Linked DNA regions of Homo sapiens. The protein of the gene in region 1 purifies or fractionates together with the protein of each later gene. This does not show direct contact. Each region holds a gene or a part of one and is shown in the gene's direction. Other genes may lie near its edges.

What was found.
Region 2: the proteins of MS4A15 (region 1) and CYP51A1 purify together in Homo sapiens (affinity purification with mass spectrometry; one large-scale study listed by BioGRID and IntAct). This does not show direct contact.
Region 3: the proteins of MS4A15 (region 1) and SLC12A6 purify together in Homo sapiens (affinity purification with mass spectrometry; one large-scale study listed by BioGRID and IntAct). This does not show direct contact.
Region 4: the proteins of MS4A15 (region 1) and MARCHF6 purify together in Homo sapiens (affinity purification with mass spectrometry; one large-scale study listed by BioGRID and IntAct). This does not show direct contact.
Region 5: the proteins of MS4A15 (region 1) and ST7L purify together in Homo sapiens (affinity purification with mass spectrometry; one large-scale study listed by BioGRID and IntAct). This does not show direct contact.
Region 6: the proteins of MS4A15 (region 1) and TMEM63A purify together in Homo sapiens (affinity purification with mass spectrometry; one large-scale study listed by BioGRID and IntAct). This does not show direct contact.
Region 7: the proteins of MS4A15 (region 1) and TMEM63B purify together in Homo sapiens (affinity purification with mass spectrometry; one large-scale study listed by BioGRID and IntAct). This does not show direct contact.

Annotation. Positions count from the first base shown.
Region 1 is NC_000011.10:60,773,867-60,777,233, forward strand, and holds the end of MS4A15 (membrane-spanning 4-domains subfamily A member 15), read left to right. Parts: coding exon 1-84; intron 85-1,738; coding exon 1,739-1,849; 3' UTR 1,850-2,867; downstream 2,868-3,367. UniProt on the Homo sapiens protein: May be involved in signal transduction as a component of a multimeric receptor complex.
Region 2 is NC_000007.14:92,127,978-92,131,477, reverse strand, and holds part of CYP51A1 (lanosterol 14-alpha demethylase), read left to right. Parts: intron 1-2,421; coding exon 2,422-2,598; intron 2,599-3,500. UniProt on the Homo sapiens protein: Sterol 14alpha-demethylase that plays a critical role in the cholesterol biosynthesis pathway, being cholesterol the major sterol component in mammalian membranes as well as a precursor for bile acid and steroid hormone synthesis.
Region 3 is NC_000015.10:34,250,782-34,254,281, reverse strand, and holds part of SLC12A6 (solute carrier family 12 member 6), read left to right. Parts: intron 1-1,897; coding exon 1,898-2,112; intron 2,113-3,224; coding exon 3,225-3,383; intron 3,384-3,500.
Region 4 is NC_000005.10:10,398,695-10,402,194, forward strand, and holds part of MARCHF6 (E3 ubiquitin-protein ligase MARCHF6), read left to right. Parts: intron 1-2,089; coding exon 2,090-2,148; intron 2,149-2,218; exon of another isoform or gene 2,219-2,792; intron 2,793-3,364; coding exon 3,365-3,445; intron 3,446-3,500. UniProt on the Homo sapiens protein: Endoplasmic reticulum membrane-associated E3 ubiquitin ligase that plays a critical role in mitigating endoplasmic reticulum stress, the regulation of cholesterol and lipid homeostasis, and ferroptosis.
Region 5 is NC_000001.11:112,581,142-112,584,641, reverse strand, and holds part of ST7L (suppressor of tumorigenicity 7 protein-like), read left to right. Parts: intron 1-515; coding exon 516-670; intron 671-2,169; coding exon 2,170-2,267; intron 2,268-2,535; coding exon 2,536-2,650; intron 2,651-3,500.
Region 6 is NC_000001.11:225,861,881-225,865,380, reverse strand, and holds part of TMEM63A (mechanosensitive cation channel TMEM63A), read left to right. Parts: intron 1-2,529; coding exon 2,530-2,610; intron 2,611-2,802; coding exon 2,803-2,926; intron 2,927-3,029; coding exon 3,030-3,163; intron 3,164-3,500. UniProt on the Homo sapiens protein: Mechanosensitive cation channel with low conductance and high activation threshold. In contrast to TMEM63B, does not show phospholipid scramblase activity. Acts as a regulator of lysosomal morphology by mediating lysosomal mechanosensitivity.
Region 7 is NC_000006.12:44,130,554-44,134,053, forward strand, and holds part of TMEM63B (mechanosensitive cation channel TMEM63B), read left to right. Parts: intron 1-1,663; exon of another isoform or gene 1,664-1,733; coding exon of another isoform or gene 1,734-1,736; intron 1,737-3,500. UniProt on the Homo sapiens protein: Mechanosensitive cation channel with low conductance and high activation threshold. Osmosensitive cation channel preferentially activated by hypotonic stress.

The DNA of each region.
Region 1 (3,367 bases):
ACTATCTTCACTGTCCTGGAGTTCTTCACAGCGGTCATTGCCATGCACTTCGGGTGCCAAGCCATCCATGCCCAGGCCAGTGCAGTGAGTACCCCCACCCCCACCCCCACGTCCACTAAACCTGAGCTGAGCCTGTGTGGAAGGCAGTTGGCTGGGAGCGCGCTCTGCCTCCAGACCCCTCCCTCTGCACTCTGGGAAGCAATAAGAAGAGACAGCGCTAGGAAGGGTGTCCCATCCATGTCAGGGGGCCCAAAGAAGTCTTTGGGCTGGGCATGGTGACTCACACCCATAACCCCAGCACTTTGAAAAATGAGATGGGAGGATCTCTTGAGCCCTGGAGTTTGAGACAAGCCTGGGCAACATAAAAAGATCCTATCGCTACAAAAAAAAATGTATTTTTAATTAGCCATGTGTGATGGTACGTGCCTGTACTCCTAGCTAGTTGGGAGGCTGAGGCAGGAGGATCGCTTGAGCCCAGGAGGTTGAGGCTGCAGTGAGCTATGATCACACCACTGCCCTTCAGCCTGGGTGACAGAGGAAGGCTGTCTCTAAAACCAAAACAAAACCAAAGACGTCTTCGCAGGTCAGTGAAGACAGGACTGCTCTCCCCGTGGCACTGGGTGCACCAGCACCCACAGGGCCACTGCTCTGTGCAGCCCCACAGGCAGCCTTGCAGAATAGAAGGCCCAGGCTCAGGGCATGGGGGCAGTGCTGCACCCAGAGGAGTGAGACTTTTTGGAGTTCCCAGGCCACATGGGAGACAGGGGCATCAGGGAGGGCAGCATGATAGAGATGGAAATTAAGCTTTGATTTCCAAAAAAAATGGAGGACAGTGATGACAGAAAGGGGCTGGAGGGAGTGTTCAAGGCAGGGGAACCAGTTGGAGCAAAGGCTGCCTCGGGCAGGCAAATGCAGGCCACAGGGTGGGGTGCCCTTGGCAGGTGCACGATGGGATGCATTGAGGGTGAGGGGATTGAAGGTCTGAGCAGGGGAGTGAGCTGGTTGAGGGAAATCAGTCAAGAGGATTTGTCCAGTGCCGGAAGGTGGAGAGGGTGGACAAGCGGGGCTCGAGGCCAGGAAGCTGCAAGGAGGCTGGTGCCACGGTGCAGGCAAGAGAGAGCGAAGTCCTGAACCAGGCCAGGGCAGTCGGGAGAGAAAGAACAGCAGAGCCGGACGTGGTGGCTCATGCCTGTAACCCCGGCACTTTGGGAGGCCGAGGCGGGCAGATCATCTGAGGTCAGGAGTTCAAGACCAGCCTGGCCAACATGATGAAACCCCGTCTCTACTAAAAATACAAAAAATTACCTGGGCATGGTGGCAGGCGCCTATAATCCCAGCTACTCGGGAGGCTGAGGCAGGAGAATAGCTTGAACCCAAGAGGCGGAGGTTGCAGTGAGCCGAGATCACGCCATTGCACTCCAGCCTGGGCAACAAGAGCAAAACTCTGTCTCAAAAAAAAAAAGAAAAGAAAAAAAAGAACAGCAGAACGTTAGCGCCTGGAGAAATGGGACTTTTGTCTGTTTTGTTCACTGCTGTACTCCCAATGCCTGGATCATAGCTGGCCCCAGTAAATGTTGTTTGAAATATTGGTTGCACGGAGAGCCCTGAGCATGCGATTCAGACTTGCGGAATTCAGTACCAGGGCGCTGTTCTCAGATTACCCACAAGGGGGCACTATTGAACCACTACCCTGAAGCTCCAGCGTCCTCCAGGACGCTCAGTGCTGTTTTCTTTGCAGCCTGTGATCTTCCTGCCAAACGCCTTCAGCGCAGACTTCAACATCCCCAGCCCGGCAGCCTCTGCGCCCCCTGCCTATGACAATGTGGCATATGCCCAAGGAGTCGTCTGAGTAGCAGATGTGGCACCTGCGGGTGGAGTCCAGCCTTTTCCCTCTGGGCCCAGCCTCTCCCCACCCCCACCTTGTTCATCAGGGGCCAGCCCCATCCCAGCTGCCCTCCCTCACCACATCTACACATACTCCGGCATCTGAGTGAAGTGTCCCCAGGGACATCTCTCCCACACTTTCCCCAGTGCTTTCTTTCTAAAAGACACCGGGCTGACGTCAGGGGTGTGTGTCCTTCAGCTCCCTGAGCCCTGTCACCCTTCCAGGACACCCACCTTGTGCATCTAAGCATTTCTCTGCTCATTGGGGAAATCCTGGCCTCATTGGAGACTCAGGTTCGAGGCCTGCCCTGACCCTCGGGCCTCGGGAAGGTCAGAGAGCCCGGAATCCTCCAGAATGGAAGAGTCTGACTCTGGCATTCCACAGAGGTGCCGATACCAGGCCAAGGCCTCACAGCAGGGTAGTGGCCTGGCCGCAGGTCTCCTGGCCCCAAGATCAGCTCTGTCCTTTGTCATCTGTTGCCACATCCATGGAACTCAGGTTTCCTATTTGGAAACTAGAGTGTTGAACCAGATAAGGTTCATCAGGCCCTTCCAGCTCCCCAGGCTCCCTGAAGTCCTGGGTCTAGGCCAGGCATTGTCCCCCTGCTTCCTGGAAACCCTCATTTTCCTTGTCTGTAATATGAAGTCAGCATTGGCCCCGCCCCCCACCCCCTACCATCTCCCAATGGAGGGGAGGTTGCAGGGGAGAGCTGCCGCCAGCCCACTCCTGAGGCACCACCACAGTCAGCATCGACAGGGGCACAGCAGTGGCAGTTTGGGACCTCCCTGTGCCTCTCAGCACTCCCTTCCCCACCCCCATAGCCCAAGGACAAGGCTACCACAGAAGGTTACCACAGGACCTGGGCTTCGTCTCCAGGGGACAAGGAGACACTGTCAGCCTGGTGTTCACCAGGCCTGGTAGATGAGATGGCTTGTCTCATCCACACCACAGAAGGAAATAAACCATGTGGCTTAAATTTTGAGCTGGTCTTGTTGCAATGACTTTTTCTTTTTAACCTCAGGGGCTTCCAAGGGTCATCCCATGTTTATCAGAGGACCTGGGTAACTATCCCACTGTCACAAAAGGGCACCTCTGGGTGCCTCGCTCTGTGTGGTGTAATCCTTACACTTACTCTGTCCCCATCTCGGTTCAAACAAACATGCCTTCATATCCCCACTCCACAACTAAGGACACTGAAGCTTAAAGGTGTTAAATTATATGCCCAAGGCCACCGAGCTAGTTAGGAGCAAAACTGGGATCCAAACCTAGTTCCATGTGACGTCAGAGTCCGTGTTCTCACCACTTGGTCTCCCCTTAGTACAAACCTAAGTGCTTCCCACCAACCCCTTTTCCTCCTTCCTTCTGTTTCTTCATCCCCAAAACTAAGGCAGGGCTGCATTCCTCAACACACTCACTTCTTCTTCACCCAACAAACTCCCCCTCCTCCTTTAAGGCCCTATTTAAACGTTGCCCCTTCTGTGA
Region 2 (3,500 bases), on another chromosome or scaffold:
AAAATTGATATTAATTAACCCTCATTTTTCTTTACCATGCATCTGTGGGGTTTTCTAACCTGCTCTATACATCTTCTGTGATTTCACTGTCCACTTGAATGACCCACATGACACCATAGCTACTCAATTATTTGCCCGTCTTCTCTCTAATGAGCTTCCCTGTGCCAGTTAAGCCATTTACTTCACAGTCTCGCTTTGGACTTGTCACTCTTAACTGTTTCACTTCCACAATATTAATTTAGATATCCTATTCGTAGACCATACCGTCTCCTGGTTTGCTTGTGCAACTCCTTAAATTATAACTATTCTTTGACCTCATTGGATCTTGCATTCCATTTACTTTCTCCTGATCCATCAGCCTTCATTCTTCACTTTCCTCTTTCCGCTTTGGGTCCATGGCATGTCGTTTCTGTTACACTCTTGGCAATACTGTACTTTAAATTTCCTCGACCCCGCATCTTTTCATTGTGTTCAGCTGGCAGAAGTCACCCTTGGAGGCAGCCAGTTATTGTCTCCTTCTGCACCAGATTAGTTTCTTCCTGATTTTATGATTGCCTACCTTAATGATATTTGAACACTGCTCCACAGTCCTATTATGTTCTTGTGATTGGGCCTACTTTTCCACTCATTACAGTGACTAATTCAAACCTTCACTTTTCTAAACTTCTGAATCTTTCTACCTCTCCATCAAAGCAGATGATTTTTTCTCCTGTTTAGGAGACAATGATTAAAAACGTTGATTTAGGAGACAATTATTAAAACATTCAAAGAAAACTTCCTCATTTTCTCAATTTCAAATATGCAAACCTACTTGTATTTATATAGTAATCCTATTCTCTTTCTTCCTATCACAGTAATAATTATCAAACACTTACTTTATGCCAGTACTTAGTGCTTTACAAAGATCATCTCACTGAAGCTCCACAAAAACCCTTTCAGGTATATTTGTTTTATAGATGACAAAACTGAGAAGCAGAGAGGATATATAATTTCTTCTTGGACTCACTGCTAGACAGTGGCCAAGCCAGGATTTACACATGGTCTGATTTCTGAGCCTATACTTTTATTAATGATAACAATAATGGAAAACAAGTCATTAAGATGCTAAGTAAGCCAAGGTACTCTTCTCTGCCCTGTATATAAAATTTGGCAGCAGCTCTGTGAAGAACTGCTATTATTATTATTACCATTTTATAGGTGAGAGAAACGAAACACAGAGAGACTAAGTTCTCTGACTATAGGACCAAAGTCATACAGCAAGTAGGTGGAGGAGCTGGGATTTGAACACGGACAGTCTGGCTCACTGCGTTCTACCACTTTGATTTTATTACAACTATATTTTGCCTCTTATCGGAGGCTGAACTCTCCATCCCTCTTTTGTCTCAGGAACTTTTTACTTTTATTTGTTTTCTCAGTGTATTGTTGACTTCTTTTTCAATGGCATCTTTCCTTTTTCTCTGAAAAATTCTTGTCACCCGTTTAAAAACTTCCTCAAAATGGCTTATGAGGCTCTGTATGGTCTAGCACTGCCTAATGCTCAACTCTCATCTCCTCCTTTCTCTTTCTCTTACTTTTAGGGCCTTTGTGTATGTTTAGCTACCAAACCAGCTCCTCATTCTTCTGGTCTCAACCTAGTTGTCTTTTCCTCTATTAGGTCTCCCTTTTTTAGATTCTCTCATCACAGAGTTGCTTTCCTTTCTGTAATACTTGTCACATTTGCAGTTTTATGTTTGTTAATGTGATTATTTGATTAATTTGTATTTTTTCCAATAGACTAAGCTTGGTGAGTTGGGACAGTATTTTTTTTCATGATTATACCCCCAGAGTCTAGTCTTCAATCATAACCAGAAAACTGCAAGGGAAAGTATTTAACATCTAACCAAATTAATATAAAATAAAAAATGAAGTCATTTAGTGTAGGTGAGATAGTGCTAAAATAGATAAATAAACTTGTAGTGTCTTCACATAGCAGGTACTATAGAAAAGGTCAAATTCTTTGGCTAGTCTTGTAAAATTTGTTTTTAACCAAAGGGGGAAGAAGTCTATATTTTCAGAGGTGTTCATCACAGAATTAGCTGTAATAACTAAAGAAAACCCTGACATATCACCCATATGTCCAATAATGAAAGAGTAGTCAGTAAATTAACATTGTGATGTTTATATAGACAATAGAAAACATTGTCAATATAAACTGAAAAAAGCATAATAAACAGTTATATTTATACTACATTTGCAACTAAATGAACATAATTATAAATTTGGACAAAGGAAGGAGGAGTATGGCAAGATGAAAAGAATTGCTTTAAGGTTTATATATGTTTTTATTTTTTTAATAATGCATTATTTTGTGATTTTAAAAAGTTACTGTCGTAGTGTTGCATATTTTTTGTAACATCACTATATGTACTTTTCTCTTTTTAGTATGGACCTGTATTTAGTTTTACCATGGTAGGCAAGACATTTACTTACCTTCTGGGGAGTGATGCTGCTGCACTGCTTTTTAATAGTAAAAATGAAGACCTGAATGCAGAAGATGTCTACAGTCGCCTGACAACACCTGTGTTTGGGAAGGGAGTTGCATACGATGTGCCTAATCCAGTAGGTGACACTGTTACCATAAATAAAGACAAATCTATACCTCAGTAGTTATAGCTAATAGTGAGACATTATACATTTAAAATGTAGAAACAGCCAGGCATGGTGGCTCATTCCTGTAATCCCAGCACTTTGGGAGGCCAAGGTGGGTGGATCACTCAAAGTCAGGAGTTCAAGACCAGCCTGGCCAACATGGTGAAACCCTGTCTCTACTAAAAATACAAAAATTAGCTGGGTGGGGCTGGTGGTGCACACCTGTAAATTCCAGCTACTTGGGAGGCTGAGGCATGAGAATCGCTTGAACCCAGGAGGCGGAGGTTGCAGTGAGCCGAGATCACAACACTGCACTTTAGCCTTGGCAACAGAGTGAGACCCTGTCTCAAAAACAGAAACAAAAAACCAAACACACACACACACACGCACGCGCACACACACACACACACACACACACACAGAAACCAACCAAACAAAAATGTAATAAAATGTAGAACCAGTTTATTCCTTGGTTCAAAAGTCTGAAGAATCATGAGAAGAAAGGCCATGGATAACTGATAAGTAATGGGTATTTAGTTTTATATTTGCTGTCATGGCTAAACAATATTAAAGGGCTTCCTGTACAAATAATGGAATCAATGATAACTTAGCATACTGGGATTTAATTTGAAAGGGTTATTAGACAATGCTGTTACTTCATCAAAAGGACTTCCTGCCTACCCATTCCTGCCTGAAATTCTAACATAAGCGCTGTTTAGAGATTGCTGACTTCAGAAGTCCTCTTTTAATGCAACAACTTCACGTGTGGGGTACATCTATGTGTATGTTTTACCCTCAAAAGCCAAATACGAAATTGTTTTAAGTTGATATAGAACACAAATCAGACAATTGGCCCCAATGCTTGGTATGGG
Region 3 (3,500 bases), on another chromosome or scaffold:
TAATTTTAAGTCAGAATTTCATAGAGTCTCTCTGAGATTTTCCCTCTCAGATAAGCCCAGTTAGACTTCCTTCCTCATCTAGGCAGGAAGCCTACCAGCAAACTATGTCCCGTTCATCCTCTTTCTTATGTCCTAAGCATAGAACTAGTAGCTGTAACCATCATTTAGGTTCAGATATTAGATTTTTTTCTCCCTGATAATTGTACATAATCTTTTTTTATTATACACATTTTGAACTATTCATAAAGGGCTTTGCAGACAGTGTAGTTATTGCCAGCAACCTTTATAAGGCCCACCTTGGCCTCCCGACGTGCTGGGATTACAGGCGTGAGCCACTGCGCCCAGCCTAGGTCAGGGCTTTTATCCATTACCCAAATAATGTACTTTGTACCCATTAAGTACTCTCTCATCATTCACCACCTCCTTCAACTCCCTAGTGCGAATACTTTAAAGTATGTTTTTTGAAGTAGTAATGGATTTGTGCACATCTGTGACTCACAGGCTCACTTTTCCCTTTGACTAGTGGCATAGGGACTAGCTGGCACTCAGTGTTATTTGTAGTCTTGTTACAGAATTATCTTGAAGAGTCATCTGGATTATCTGAGGATCAAACTCATCGGTTCTATGTTGATTTAACCAGATTACAGAAAAAAAGATTTTTCAAGACAAAAAGACAGTTCCAGTAGGTTTAATGACTTACCTCAAAGTTAATTAATGGCAGAGCAAGAAGATGAACTGTGATTTCCTGACTCCCCATTCAGTATTTCTTCTATGCTATGCTGCATGATGGCAGAAGTAGATTCCATCTTAAACTTTTAATCTGCTTATCTAGGGACTGTAATACAGCTGAAGGTCCTTTTTAGGGGCATAAAATTTCTAAAGGTGACATTCTGGTTATATCTCAATTTGGGAAATTCCATTTTGTCTCAGGTTCACCTTTGGGGCTTCTCCTCTTTTTTGATTAGTACACGGTCATAATGCATGGTATTTTCTTTGAGATATTCCAGCAAAACAAGACAAAAAATCTAGAATAATACATGAAACAAGACTGGGAAATGTTGAGAGTTGTTGAAGCTGAGTAATAGGTACATGGTTCATAATAATGTATTCAATCATTTTGCAAATTTTAGAAGTCCCTTTGTTGGACCTGAGAGGTATTTTAACTATGGATGTATTATTCCTTTGTTTATATTTGTGTCTCTGGGTTAAAGAAAAAAGTAAAACCAGCAGGTTAATATTTATGTTATCCTTACCGTCACTCCCACTGAGTCTAGGCTTAAATTCAAAAACAGTTTTCTCTTAGGCCATAGAGGGATCTGCCTTTTAATTCTGACCAAGCTGTTTTCCTTGCAACAGTAGCCAGAAGATTCAACCTTTAGCATAACATTTTCAAGGTGTTTGTTATGAATGTTAGGCTTTTCTAGGCCAAAAAAAGAGGAGTGCTTTTTACTTTATAAGAACAACAAAAGGACTTCAGTATTCTTTTAGACCTAACAATTTTAGCCAAAAATTTTGGAAGATGAGTCAGCATAATGTCTTCAGACAGTTCTTCAATTTGACTTCCTTCACTGCCACCACCTATGACCTTGGACAGATAACTGTATTTCCCTAACCTTCAATTAACTCCCTGTCTTCCTAAACTTCAGTGCCTCCATCCACAACATAGAAATTCTAATACATTGTGAGGTTGCTGTAAGTATTAAATTGGCAGAAAATGTAAGTCACCATTCACAGTGTTAAAATAAATTATAAATAAATAAACATTAGTTCCTTTCCCACCCATAACAGTAGAAGCTCTTAAAGATGGGGTTCTTGTTTCCTTTACTAACCTGTTTCCTTTTTTTTTAATGTACTTTTTTTCCTTACTTGATCTTTCTCCCTATTTCTTTTCACTTAGGGTCTGCATGCTGGGTAACCGCACCCTTTCATCAAGACACATTGACGTTTGCTCTAAGACCAAGGAAATTAACAACATGACAGTCCCATCAAAGTTATGGGGATTCTTCTGTAACTCGAGTCAATTTTTCAATGCCACCTGTGATGAATACTTTGTTCACAATAACGTCACTTCAATCCAGGGCATTCCTGGATTGGCTAGTGGTATAATTACAGGTAAGTTAGGGAGTTATTGGACAAGTTTTTTCCTATTTTCTGGGGAAAATAGGCCTTGTCATCTTAGATTCCTCTACTGTCCATAAAGATTCACTGCCATGGTGCTAATTCCCTTCTTAAGCACACCACACAGCTCTTAATTCACCATATTTCTGCTTTTCCATTAGTAAAGCTGTCCTTATTCAGTACTCCTTTACAGAGTGATGTCTGCTAAAATTCACCTCCATTTCAGAGCAGAGTTGAGCAAATCACTTTCTAACCTTACGGTAAAATATTCCGTGTATTCTTGTAAAATTGCCAATGTTCTTCCTGCACTGACAGAATAGACCTGTTTTAATGTCCACATCCACATGTATCTTCCTAACTTAGCTAAATTCCTGAAACATTCCTTAAGTGTCTTCTATTATAAATGTTTGGTCTATAAATTTCTTTGCACATAAGTAAGTTTACATTAAGGTGTTAGAAACAGCACTGATGACAAATAATAATGGGATTTGTGGGGCATTTAGTTTTAGTCTGTTTAACTTTTACTAATTTGCATTAGTAAAGTTAAACTATATTTGCATGTACCAAATCATTTTGTCAAATTATATTTAAATTAGATAAGAAAGAACATTATGTTTAGCTGGGCGCCGTGGGTTATGCCTGTAATCCTAGCACTTTGGGAGGCCTAGGTGGGAGGATCATGAGGTCAGGAGATCGAGACCATCCTGGCTAACATGGTGAAACCTCGTCTCTACTAAAAATATAAAAAATTAGCTGGGCGTGGTGGCAGGCGCCTGTAGTCCCAGCTACTCAGGATGCTGAGGCAGGAGAATGGCGTGAACCTGGGAGGCAGAGCTTGCAGTGAGCCAAGATTGTGCCACTGCACTCCAGCCTGGTGACAGAGTAAAACTCTGTCTCAAAAAACAAACAAACAAAAAAAAAACTATGTTTTTATTTATGTGTGTTTTATTGTGCAATGTGTGTGTATACATGTGCTCATGTAGAAGCAAACACACCTTTAGAAACTGTATAAATGAGGAGCCTGATTTTGAATGTTTGGGTAGAAAATTAATTATCTTTTTTTTTTCATACTGCTGCTGCTTAAATTCCCATTTTTCCCACTGCAGAGAATCTTTGGAGTAATTACCTACCCAAGGGAGAGATCATCGAAAAGCCTTCAGCCAAATCTTCTGATGTCTTAGGCAGCTTAAACCATGAATATGTTCTTGTTGACATCACCACCTCCTTCACGCTTCTGGTGGGAATCTTCTTTCCCTCTGTTACAGGTAAACACATAGGCTGTTGTATATTTTAGAAGCTGTCAGACCCACGGAGTGATTTTTCTCAGGAGGCAGAATTCTCAGGGTTCCTAGATTTGCTTCTACTCTTTGCTATCAGTATCA
Region 4 (3,500 bases), on another chromosome or scaffold:
AATTATACAAATAAGAACTCTGATTTATAGAAATCAAATCTAAGTAAAGCTTTTTCTAATCCAACCTCCTGAGCTTATATTGCGAAAAGAATTTTCTTAGTAAACTTATGTTTTATTATATAGTTAGAATCTTTTGGAATCTTTTGAAATGAAACAAGTTTTCTTCCATTAGGAACATACTTTTTCTTTTAATCATTGGGATTAAACACCCTCCTGTTTTTTTCTTGCATGGGTTGCTCTGTTGGAAGTTTTCTACAGGCAGTTTTTTGGCTCTTGTGGTCATATGCTTTGCAGAAATATAATTTGACAAAGCTGTGGTCTTCCACTAGAAGGTGACAATCCTGAGAAATTGTCCTTAATTTCAGGATGCCTTTCCATTAGTTTGTGTGTAATGGGATGGAAATTGATTGTTGCAACTGGTATTTAAGGTTAATAATTATTTAATACATCTGCTAATAGAGTTAAAACTTGCCCCTCCCAGGGGCCTAGTTGAGTCATCTTCAGACTGGGATATGAGAGCAAAATAGGCAAAATTCAACATACAGTTTTTTTCCTTACCTTATTAAATTTCTTCTGCTTTATATTACACACAATATGTTAGTAAACTAATACGTATATATAATTTATAAATAAATTTAAATATATTGGAAATACATGTTCAAAAATATTCTTACCCATGAAATAGTCAGAAAGGGTTAGAGGCCAGATCCCTAGTAGGTTCACTCTGACTTCTGTCTTCATGATTGAGTTTCCCACTCCCCTGGTAATCTACTGCGCTGTCGATTTATTTCTACCATAAAGAAAAGATAACTATATTTTATTATTAGGAATGAAGTAAAATTTAGCCAGAAAGACTTGAGGAAAAAGAAGACTATAAAAATTCTCTTGCTATAAAGGTTTTAAAAATACTTTCATACTTAGCTATAATGCCATTATCTCACCTTACAAAATTACTAGAATTTGGTATTTCCTAATAATCCATCATATTCAAACTCTCTGGGTTGTCCCTTACATACCATTTTGCAGTTGGTTTCTTTGAATGAAGACCCAAATAAGGTCCACATATTACTTTTAGTTGTTAAGTTATAAGTTATTAGTCTTTTAATCTAGAGTACTCTTCTCTTTGCTTCCCCCAACTCACCCTATTTGGCCATTGATTTGTTGCTGGGATTAGGTTAACTGTTCTTGCAGCATGTCATGTTTTACATCTGTCCATCTGCTTCCTGGATGTCCTCTGCCTTTATCCTTTGTCTCCCATATTTCTCTTAAACTGGAAGTCAGATCTAAGGGCCTTATTAGATTCAGGTTGAATACATCTGGGACAAATCCATCACTGGTCACACTGTGCCTATTAATAGTATATGTGAGGAGCTGAGATACATGATGTTGGATTATCCACTTTTATCACTGGATTCAGCTGATATCAACCTGGGCCTCTAATCTTAGGTTTTGTTTTTCCCTTTACCATTATAAAATAATCTGTTGGGAGTGATATTTTAAACAGTCATTTTTTATATTTATTGGCTGACTTTTCTGAAAGAAGAAGAAATTCTTATCAATTTGGGACTATTCAGTCAACCCAAACCTGTCTGTCCGGGGCAAGTAGGACAGATGCTCATATTTTTCCCATTAATTTTGGTTTTCAGAATAAGGAATTGGTGTATTAACTATTCACATGGGTGTGCTAACTGCTTCCAAAACATCAAAGTGTTTTCTTTGATGTTGCTTTTTCTCTTTTCGTGATTATTATTTTGGACTTTTCCTTTTTTGAGCATCATAAACTCATGGATTTGTGTATGTTCAGTGTTTTTCCATCAGTTTTGGTCATTATTCTTTTTGATGCTCATATTATCCTCTCTTTGGCCTGTTTTCACAATGGTTTCTGTGTTGATTTGGCATGGCCCTATTAGACCTTAATAGCTTTGTTGTTCTCTAGTTACAGAGAATGTCCTAGGCAGTGTATTTTTAGCCTAGTTCTGGAATCTTTCATTTCTCCAAGAAGCCCTAGTTCCTTTTAGTGGGGAATTGTAGTAGGAGTGTTCATTGTTTTGATGTCGGAGTTTTCATGGAATTTTTTCCCCCTTTTTAGCATTTTGCCCTTACCATATTGGTCATTTCTCCCTTGTTGGTTTGGGATTTGAAGAACACGTGAGTATAATACTTTTACAAAGTTACTTTCATTCATTACTCCCAAATGTGATTATTAATAAAATAGTATTCTAAAGAGTTACATCATTTCTTCATTGGCATTATGCAAGGGAATAGTTAGGCAATACCGTCTCATTCTTTTTTAAAAAAAATAACAGTGGCTCAAGAGATAGTGGTCATGTTGCCAACTAATGAAAATGTGCTCTGAAATCCAGTCAGCTGGGTGGGCCTGAGGCATACCGTGGGAAAGTTTCCCACAGGCTGATTTTCTGTCCATCTCAAGAACCTGTATGTTCTCTTCTTTCCCTTTCCCCAGGTGCCCCCTGCTGAATTTAGAAAAGTAACAATATATCAATCAATTTAAAAAGGGTAGAATATTTTGGAATGACGGGTTGTAGTGTTTTCTAGAGTGCTTTAGTTTTGACATTTTATCAGTATTTTCCAGAGGTAAATAAATTTTGGAAGGATTATTACTTCTCTGTTGGGGCCCTAGAACAATTTAGTCTTTTATGGAAAAGCTGACTATCTGGGATCATATGCTCAGTTTGTATATTTGAGATCTGAGAGATCACGTTCTGAAGTCTTCTCATATTTAGTACACCTCTGATTCTCACTAGTTGAATGCAAGAACTTGAAAGGTTCAGGTAAGTGTTTTGAAAAATTTTGACTTTCCAAACTTTTGCCACTTGCTATCTGAAACTCAGGAATCAAAAAATACCGACAGGCACTGTTACTTTCAAAATTCTTTCTATAAGTTGAGAATGGGACAGATTTGCAGAGCAAGGGAAACTTGAACAGTTACTTCTAGTGGTAGGAAATGAGGTGGCTAGGATATTACCCAGCTGGTGGGTGACTTGGGCAGTGTGTTCCTGCTTTCAGTGGTTAGCCTTTAGCAAATCTGCTTTAGAGTGAGAGTAGAGGGCAGGCTGTTGTATTACAGTGCTCTTGTTTTTGTAAAATTTAATTCACTCTACTGTTATTTTGTCTCCTTGGGTAAAGTGTTATTTAATTTTTCTTCATTTTTTAGTAATATATAACAGTCAGTGAGAGAATTTGGTTTTCAGAGATGTCATCCAAAGCAGATTTTACAGTTGTTTCCTGGTTATAAATTGTCTCAACAATTCTCTTTTAGTCATTTAGATTGTTTAATATGGGAAAACCGGGGTGTAGAACATGTTGTAAAATTAAATTTTATTTACTTTTTTCTTATTTCCAGGTCCAAGCATCTCATTTTGAAGGCCTAATCACAACCATAGTTGGGTATATACTTTTAGCAATAACACTGATAATTTGTCATGTATCCTTTAATGAACCAACTTGGGTGTACACTAATATTATTCATACCAAAGAAC
Region 5 (3,500 bases), on another chromosome or scaffold:
GTGCTGCATGCCTGTAATCCCAGCTACTCGGGAGGCTGAGGCAGGAGAATTGCTTGAACCCAGGAGGCCCAGGTTTCAGTGAGCCAAGATTGGGCCATTGCACTCCAGCCTGGGTGACAAAAGCAAAATTCCATCTCAAAAAAAAAAGCAGGTATGACCAGTAGAGGGTATACAATTCAGATAATTCTTTATAAATCTTCTTTTCTCCCCCCTTTCACAAAAAGAAAACACAGGACAATGGGTCAGAGAATGAGATAGAAGTTTAAAAATTTTGTTTTTTTTTTTTAAAAAACAAAGAGAAGGGAAAGATAAGAAAGTGGAAGAATTGTGGAATCAGACATAAAGAATATACCAATGTGCCCCTATTAAGGTAAAATATTGAACGAAGGTTTTTTTTTTTCTAAAGATGGAAAAAGTGTAGGTAAGGAAATATGACATAGAGCAAAGGGACATAACCAAGAGAAAACACTTGCTTTACCATTTTATTTAAAATTGCCTTCTTGCTTTCTTCATAGCTGTGCCACTGCATATGTTCTACTGGCTGAGGAAGAAGCAACAACTATTGTAGATGCTGAAAGGTTATTTAAACAGGCACTCAAGGCAGGAGAAACAATTTATAGGCAGTCACAGCAGTGCCAGCACCAAAGTCCTCAGCATGAAGCTCAACTGAGTAAGCAAGTTTGAACTGGTTATTACTGTCTTTTAGCATCTGTAATTTGCTTGTGTCTTAACACAAACAACAATAATAAAAAACTTAATACTTACAGGTTAGTTAATTTTCACTGGAAATAACTAATCTATTCACAATACCTACAAGCCAGCAAGACAGAAATGTGTATTAGCCAGAGAATGCTTGTGGAAGGGAATAGATCTGCTCAGGTTATTGAGAGAAGATGTGCTGCTCTGAGACTTAACAGTAATTTATTTCATGTGAGAATTGGGCTGGTCATTGTAAAAACATAACTCAAAAACTTTCAGCATTCAGGAGAGCCTTCTAGTGATGATAAGCAGCTGTTATCTTTATCCTCACCCTTACTCTAAGCAACAGTAGAGGTACATTATTTGGTTGGTTCTTCAGACTGTGTATCTGCATATAGTGCTAGGGAGTGGCCCCTTTCACACCATCTGATTCTTAGCCCAAAATCCAACCTCATACTTGGCATTGATTCTTTCTTTGGTTGATTTTTCTCCATGATGTGCTTGAGATCAGATGAGCCATAGCAACAGAAGTCCTTTCTGTTCTTAGATATGCTCTACCAGTTATGATTGAGATTTTTTTTTACCAAAGATGTTAGAATCAGCAATGATGCTGCTTCCTGCTATTTTTATGGCCAGAGGGTTTTAGTTTCATGATTTTGGCAAATAGTGGGTAATAAATTGAAATATGTTTATATAATGCATTATCTACTGGCAGCTAAGTTCTAAATCTTTTTTTATGTGTAAATTAAAATTTGGATAATGTTTTTCTCCCTAAGCTAAATACAGATATATATGGTATGTTTCATTAATGCACAGTTTTTATAACACAAATCTGTGGGAATATATAATTTTGTAGCCTGGAACTAATGAAACTACATCTTTAAAAATGTCATGCCATTTGTCTTTGAATAATCTCAAATACGGTTATGAGCTAGTTACAGAAATATTTGTTAGCTCTTTCTAGAAGTAGTTTTATAGTTTGTCAACTACTCACTGTTAAGAAAAGTTTACATTAGCCATGGAAATTTTGTTTTGGACATTTTTTGTTTTTCATTTAAAACAATAGAGAGTATCAGAATAGTAGATCATTTATGCACAAACTTAAATACTAGGTTAATGTTATATCTTACTATAATGTATGTATTTCTTTTTTGCTAATGGTAAAATAAACTTGTCAATCATACACGAATTATATATACTGTACTTAAGTTACTATTAGAGGCAAAAATAATTAAATGTGTATTTTAAGTTTTAATACAGAAAACTTGAAACATGCGCAAAAATAGAGAACACTCCTGTTCAATATTTATCATCCAAATGTAGACATCATTAATATTCTTCCATTCTGACACAATTTAATTTTAATTGACTCTTCCAAGGGAAGCAAATAAAATTAATGGATATGTTAATGAAATAGCAGCCCACAATACAAAAGTGATAGTTGTATCATTTTTTTGTTTTTCTAAATAGGGAGAGATACCAATGTACTGGTATATATTAAAAGAAGATTGGCAATGTGTGCAAGAAAATTAGGAAGAATAAGAGAAGCAGTAAAAATAATGAGAGATGTAAGTAAATTGATGATGGGACTATTACATTTATTCCTCCAGAAACTAAAAATTTAGTTAAGTTGCCAGTTATTTTAATGCAGAATCATTGTATTTTAATTGGTAGTTTTTAGAACAAGGTATTTATTTAATATACGTACCTTTCTTAAGGGTTAGGTCTTCTTCACAGCTATGGTAAGAAACAAGAATTTCTACTTAATGAATCTGGCTCAGCTCTATTGAGTTCCTTTGTTATGATTTTAATCTTTCTTTTCCTTTTAATATACAGTTGATGAAAGAATTTCCTCCTCTTACCATGTTGAACATCCATGAAAATCTCTTAGAATCACTTTTAGAATTACAGGCCTATCCAGATGTTCAGGCAGTCCTAGCAAAATATGATGGTGAGTCATATTCCCTTAGTTGATAGCATGGTTATTCTTTTCCAATTATGTAATTATAAATGTGGTTATATTCTAGTATTTAATTTTCTCTTTCTGTTCTTACCAGTCAGTATTTAGCACTCAGAGGTTGCTATTTAGTATCTTCTTTATCAGGACTTTCATTAGCAAAAGTCTGCAAGGAAGAACTTTTCTTCTGTCAAGATTTACTTGTTTGTTTATTGAGTGCTTGTTTCTAATATGAGTGAGTCATTCAGAATATGACAGTGAACAAGACAACATGGGAGGCTGGGCATGGTGGCTCACACCTGTAATCCCAGCATTTTGTTTTGGAGACTGAGGTGGGAGGATCACTTGAGCCCAGGAGTTGGAGACCAGCATGGGCAACATGGCAAGACCCTGTCTCTACAAAAAAATTTTTTAAAAAAATTAGCTGGGTTTGGTGGTGTGTACCTGTAGTCCCAGCTACTTGGGAGGCTAAGGTGGGAGGATCACTTGAACCTGGGAGGTTCAGGCTGTAGTGAGCTGTGACTGCACCACTGTAGTCCAGCCTAGGCGACAGAGGGAGACCCTGTCTCAAAAAAAAAAAAAAAAAAGACGGGGAGCCCTCATAGGATTTACAGTTTATTTACAGTTTAGTGGAGCATACAGACAAATGAGCAGCAGTTACATTGAAGACAGCATGTTTGGGAGATAATTGGAGAAGTATGGGTGCTGTGCACATAGTAGGGGTACCTTATTTGTTTTGGAGTGTCAAGCAAGCCTAACAGAGAAGTTGCTTAGCAGTATATACTATAAGAGCAATTCAGAATAACATTTTTACAATGCTTTTTAGTTACAAAGTTCAATGATA
Region 6 (3,500 bases), on another chromosome or scaffold:
CGGCTCCCTTTGAGTATCTGCACCACCAATTCCTGCAGATGGAGGCTGGAGGAAAGTCTTTCCTGTGAGGAGATTACGTGTGCAGCCAGGGATGCGGGGAAAGGCCCAGAGCATCAGGAAAGGTGGCGGTGGGGTGCAGGGGGGCAGGGCAAGCAGTCCGGGAAGGCTCCCAGGACCCCATGCTGGAGGACCTGAAGGCTGGGCTGAGGAGCTGACATTTTATTCTTTCTTCATTCCTTTTTTTGTAATCTTATTTTTTTAGAGACAGGGTCTTGCTCTGTTGCCCAGGCTAGAGTTCAGTAGTGCAATAATAGCTTACTGCGGCCTCAACTCCTGGACTTAAGGCATCTTCCTGCCTCAGCCTCCCAAGTAGCTGGGACTGCAGACACATGGCACCACACCCAGCTAATTTTTAAATTTTTTATGGAGATAGAGTCTTGCTATGTTGCCCAGGCTGGTCTCGAATTGCTGGGCTCAAGTGATCCTCCTGCCTTGCCCTCCCAAAGTGCTGGGATTACAGGCGTGAGCCACCATGCCCGGCCTCTCTTCATTCCTTATCAATACAGCAGCCACTAATTTGTTGCATGGACTAGGAGTTGGCTGCACTTTAACTTTGCACTATTTGTGAAGAAAGCACTTGCTAAGCAAATTGCTAGACAGGATCGTAAACTGAATGTTTAAAATTTGAAAAACTTCTTCAGAAACTCTAAGTATTTTAGAAATATTTACTAATATGTAAATACTCAATACCAGAATCATTTTTCTGTATTTCCTTGAAGCAACTCCTCAAAGTTGCCTGCTAGGCAACACCTGGAAACAGTAATTCCACTTAATGTATAACTTTAAAGAGAAAAAAAAAGTCTCCTCATTCTCATACAAACATTGCATGACTCATGCTTTCCCCTATTTTAAGAGGCCTTTTTAGTGAATGCTGTTGCAGTCCGTGGGGATTGATGTATGAATTTGCCTTTCAAGCAGGGATGCTTAAATTGCAGTTTTCTTCCTCACAGCTCTTATTGAGACCAGAAATTGTCCTACTGTTTAATTTCATGATTGATATACCTATGGGCTGTCTCTCTCACTAAAATGTAAGCACATCCAGGCCCTGTTACCAGCACCTAGAACAGTGCCTGGCAGGTGGTAGGTGGGGATTTACATGGTTCTGGAATCCCCTGGAATTGTATGTATAATTTTGCGTGTATGGTGAGGGGGTATTGCATGGTGGCCATGAGCATTGACCTTGGAGCCAGGTTGCCTGTATTCACCTCCTGGCTCAGACACTCACTAGCTGTGTGATCTTGGGCACAAGCCACTTACCTCTGTCGGCCTCAGTTTACTCATCTGTAAAATGGGGACAAAACCTCACAGGTTATGATGAGGATTAAATAAATAAATATATGTAACAATACCTGGTCAATAGTGAGTATGTATTTTGCTGGGTTTTTTTTTTTTTTTTTTTTTTTTTTGAGACGGAGTCTCACTCTGTTGCCCAGGCTGGAGTGCAGTGGGGCAATCTTGCTCACTGCAACCTCTGCCTCCCAGGTTCAAGTGATTCTCGTGCCCCAGCCTCCCAAGTAGCTGGATTACAGGTGTGTGCCACCACACCTGGCTAATTTTTGTATTTTTAGTAGAGACAGCGTTTCACCACATTGGCCAGGCTGGTCGCAAACTCCTGACCTCAAGTGATCCACCCGGCTCAGCCTCCCGAAGTGCTGGGATTACAGGCATGAGCCACCGCACCTGGCCTTGCTGGTTGTTAATATGTGTGTAGATATTTTCTGGTCTGAGGGTCCTTTGCTTTCATTAGACCCTCTGAAAGGTCTGTGACCTTAAAAAAGGCTACCTGAATAGGATTTCAGTGATGGCTCAAGGTAGATACTGACCTAGCACAAACAATAAATCTGTTCCTTTGGGTCTTTAGAGGGGATAGTGATGTGTTCATTTTTCCCCAGGAGAAGTGCCAGCTGATTCCAAGCCAAGTGGGTATAAACTTGTCAGTTCCAGGCAGTTAGCTTCATACTACTAAAAAAGGCTAGCGGGGTGCAGTGACTCACGCCTACAATCCCAGCACTTTGGGAGGGTGAGACAGGAGGAGTGCTTGAGGCCAGAAGTTCGAAATCAGCCTGGGCAACATAGCGAGACCCCGTCTCTACAAAAAATAAAAATCAGCCTGGTGGCATGTGCCTGTAGCCCCAGCTACTCAGGAGGCTGAGGTGGGAGGATTGATTGAGCCCAGAAGGTTGAGGCTACAGTGAGCCATGATTGTGCCACTGTACAGCAGCCTGGGTGACAGAGTGAGACCCTGTCTCTAAACAAAACAAAACAAAACAAAAGCCCTCTTTGTATTAAATTTCAAAATTTCCCCCTTTTGGAGGATAAAAGACAAAGAGAAGAGAGGTCTCCGCTGGCACAGAAACCAGCAGCGAGATCACTCTGCCATCCTTTCCCTTGGATCCGTGGGCACGTCTCCTGCTTGGGGTGTTTTCTTTTCCAACGGTGTCTTTTGCCTCCTTCTCTCCCTGGCCACAGGGACGCGTATCCCACGTGTGAGGTGGTTGATGTGCAGCTGTGCTACAACGTGGCCAAACTGATCTACCTGTGCAAGGAGAAGTGAGTGGTGGGCGGGCCTTGCAAGATGCCCCCTCCTTCCTTGCTGGCCTCGCATCTCCCAGCTAGGAAGGGAGGCGGGAGGCCCTGGACCCCTCCTTCTCCCCTGGCGTTCGATGGTTGAACTGTGGGTATGGGGGTCCCTGCCACAGGATTCTAAATCTGAGGTTTGTGCCCCCGCTCCCACCCCTACAGAAAGAAGACTGAGAAGAGCCTGACCTATTACACAAACCTGCAGGTGAAGACAGGCCAGCGGACCCTCATCAACCCCAAGCCCTGTGGCCAGTTTTGCTGCTGTGAAGTGCTGGGCTGTGAGTGGGTAAGGGTCCCACCCCCCGGCTGGGAGCAGAGGCATTGGCATCGGGGTGCCCCAGATACCAGCATGGGGCCACGTCATCCCAATGGGATGTGTCTTGTGGCAGGAAGACGCCATCTCTTACTACACACGGATGAAGGACAGGCTGCTGGAGAGGATCACAGAGGAAGAACGCCACGTCCAGGACCAGCCCCTGGGAATGGCCTTCGTCACCTTCCAGGAGAAGTCCATGGCCACCTAGTGAGTGTAGGCACATCCAGACCCCTTCTTGGCTGACTCCCTGTTCCCCTCCAGATAACTCACTGTCCCTCTCGAGTGGAGATGGTACTGCTGACCCACCATCCCTGGGATTTATCTGTGGTGTTTCCTTCTCCTCCCTCAGCTACCCACACTCACTTTCAGCCAGCCCAGCCCATGTTTGTGTAACAGGCGGTGGGGGTGTGGGCAGCAGCCACGGAGTGGGTGATTCTGGCTGACCCCCTCGAGCTGATGTGGCCTGGCCCCACTGCTGGGCTCTTCCCTGCTGCCCTGGACCCATCCTGTTGGCTTCATGTGCCAGCCTTGCCCCAGGGGAGAT
Region 7 (3,500 bases), on another chromosome or scaffold:
CTCAGCTTCCGGAGTAGCTGGGACTACAGACATGCACCAGCATGCCCAGCTAAATTTTGGTGGTGGGGGGTATCTTTTGTAGAGACGGGGTTTTGCTATGTTGCCCAAGCTGGTCTCGAACTCCTGGGCTGACGTGATTCTCCCACCACAGCCTCCCAAAGTGCTGGGATTACAGGTGTGAGCCACCATGCCTGGCTTTTTTTTTTTTTTCCCCTCGAGACAAGGTTTTGCTCTCTTGCCCAGGCTGGAGTGCAGTGGCATGATCATGGCTGACTGCAGCCTCCAACTCCTAGGCTCAAGGTATCTTCCCCACTTGGCCTTCAAAAGTGCTGAGATTACAGGGGTGAGCCACCCCACCCTGCCTACTACTACTTTTTTTTTTGAGATGGAGTCTCACTCTGTCGCCCAGGCTGGAGTGCAGTGGCATGATCTAAGGTCACTGCAACCTCTGCCTCCTGGGTTCAAGTGATTCTCCTGCCTCAGCCTCCCGAGTAGCTGGGACTACAGACGCATGCCACCACACCCAGCTAATTTTTGTATTTTTTTAGTAGAGACGGGGTTTCACTGTGTTGGCCAGGCTGGTCTCGAACTCCTGACCCTGTGATCTGCCCAGCTCGGCCTCCCAAAATGCTGGGATTACAGGTGTGAGCCACCGTGCCTGGCACCTACTACTACTTTTATGCTCACTTGTGGATATATTCTTGCCTTTCTCTCTGAAGTGGGTAGGGGTAGAGTAAGGATATTTGTATCTCTTTGTTACAGATTGGAAGACTGAGACTCAGGTTTCGTAGTAACAGAGCTCGCTTCCATCTTCCCCTCCTCCCCTCAGACCACATGGCCTTGCTTTGATCCAAAGCCCTAACTTAAATCTTGCCCAGTAACTCCACTGAAAAAGCTTATATCACTCCTGTAATCCCAGCACTTTGGGAGGCCGAGGTGGGCAGATCATGAGGTCAAGAGATCGAGACCATCCTGGCCAACATGGTGAAACCCTGTCTCTACTGAAAATACAAAAATTAGCTGGGCGTGGTGGCATGTGTCTGTAGTCCCAGCTACTCAGGAGGCTGAGGCAGGAGAATCCCTTGAACCCAGGAGGCAGAGGTTGCAGTGAGCCAAGATCGCGCCACTGCACTCCACTCTGGTGACAGAGCGAGACTCCGTCTCAAAAAAATACACAACAACCCCCCCAAAAAAAAGCTTATAAGTTATAGCTCTCCAACCCCCACCATGCACACACTCCTTAATGGTAAAATTAAAAAGTTAGCTAGAAGTAAAATGCTCCATCACTCTCTGGACACACCTCAACCAAAACCTCAATATCAGACTAGAGAAACTGGGATATAGCTGGTGCAGGCACCTCGTGGAGTGGAAGAACTGCCACCTCCCATCCCCAAGGTATTCTGCCTCAATGTCTTCCCTCTTCTCAGTTGCTCAGCCCAGTGCTGGCTTTGAGAGCAGCTGCCCTTGATGAAACTCAACCCAGCAACCCCACCCCCACAATTAAAAGCTTGGAGCAGCCCTGTCAACTGGCAGAGCTGCCAGCCCAGGCTCCACCCCTTACCTGTCCTGTCACTGTGCAAGTTGCTTCCCCTACTGGGTTCCTGCTTCCTCCCTGTAAAATGGGGATAGTGATCTGAGTGTGCCCTGCCTTCCTCCCATGCAGGTGGGAAGATTAATGCTGTTGTGGAGGGGAGAGTACTTTGTGACCCCAAGGAGGCGGACAGCAGAGGAGCATGGTGATTTCAGTTACTAACCATCTAGCTAGATCCTGTCCACCCTGCTGGGGCCACTTCATGTAGAAGCTTCCAAAATGCTCTACCTTTCTTTGGTGTGGAGAAGACAGGAGTTGATAGGAATGGTACTCTGGGGCTTGTTCTCATTTCATTCTGATCTGATGGAGCCTTGGAATTCAGAGAGAGAAACAGGCAAGGGGTGGGAATAGAGTGTTGAGATTGCTGGAGTACATTGGAGTTGAGAATTGAGAAAGGGGGACTAGTTAGAGTCCCCCCAACCCAAGATACCTATACCTACCTTTAACCTCCCATAGTGCCCCAGGGTTCTGTGCATCTTATGTTTACATACCCGGGCTCCCAGACACACCCATGTTCACACCCCCACTTCGAAGCCAACAACTCCCTTCATTTCCGTGGACTGCCATGCAGTCACCTAGCTCCTCCTGGACACAGGTCCACACATCAACACACATTTACATACCTGGACACACACATTTCCACAGCACCCACAGGTTCTCTGGCCTGAGAACATTTAATGAGCATTTATAAAGCTTCCATGGTCTGCCGAGTCCTGTTCTAGGAACATCAGAAAAGCACCGTGGTGCCCTGAAAATCATTCTAGCTTTAGAAAGAAGGTGAGCTAGGTTTGAGTCCTAGGTCCCTCATTTTATTAGCAGTGTGACCTTGGGAAAGTTACTTAACCTCTGAGGCCCTGTGCCCCCACCCTAAAATGTCAGTGACACTCAATTCAGGATCGTCGAGGATTAAATGAAATCATGTAATATATTATTCTTGAAACTGAGGGCACTGGACAAATGGTACCCAATACAATTACTAAATTAGTGTGTTTTTAAAGGCAGCTTGGACTGGAAAAGGAAGAGGCATAACACACCAGCACACACTCCTTTAGTCTTCCTAATCCAGGCTTTGCAGAGACTCCCTGGGACCAAGTGAAACACATAAACAACTCCATCCTCCCCTCCATCTGAGGGCTTCTGCCTCTTGCCCTGTGGTTGAAGTGTTAGGAAGAGGCAGGAGAAACCCTCTGAGTCCCCCTGGGGGCTAAGGGATGCTGCTCCCGAAGTTGCAGTCACTGTTTCTAGTTTTGTTGTTCTCTTTGGTTTTCCTTTTTCTTCCCTGAGGACCTCCTCCCCTGCTCCACAGCCCGCCCCCGAGGCAGAGCTTCAGTGTTGTCAGCAGAAGGGTCCCCCAGGGACCCCCCAGTAAAATGGGTGGGGCAGTGCTGCATCTGTTGAGGCCACACTTCTCCGCTATCCTGGGATCCTCCCCAGGGCCCCACTCTGCTCTGTCCCCAAGCACTTTGAGAACCCAGGCACTCAGGCTGGCTGTCCCTTTTCTCCTCCTGCCCACCCCATCCACTCTGAGCATCAATGCAGCCGGCCAGTTGCAGGCAACCAGGCAGCACCCTGGCTGCCCAGGCAGGCTAAGAGGCCCCCACCCACTCCCCCCTCCTTTGCCAGTGGAAAAGCTTGCCGTAGGGCATAGCTTTCCCAGCCTTCCCTGCTTCAGAGGCAGGAGCATGGCACTCTGGGAGTTGTAGTGCTCATAACACTCAGGCGATCCCTGTGCAAATAACTGGAGAGAGGACTATGGTATGGGGAAGAGAAATGAGAATAAGCAGGAGTGGCTGGGGCCAGGCAGGTAACTCAAACCCAGAAGTCCTACTATTTACTTGACTTCCTACTCTGACCCATCGTCGAACCTAAGCCAGTTATATTGAGTTCAAAACTCTAACCAAATGAAATC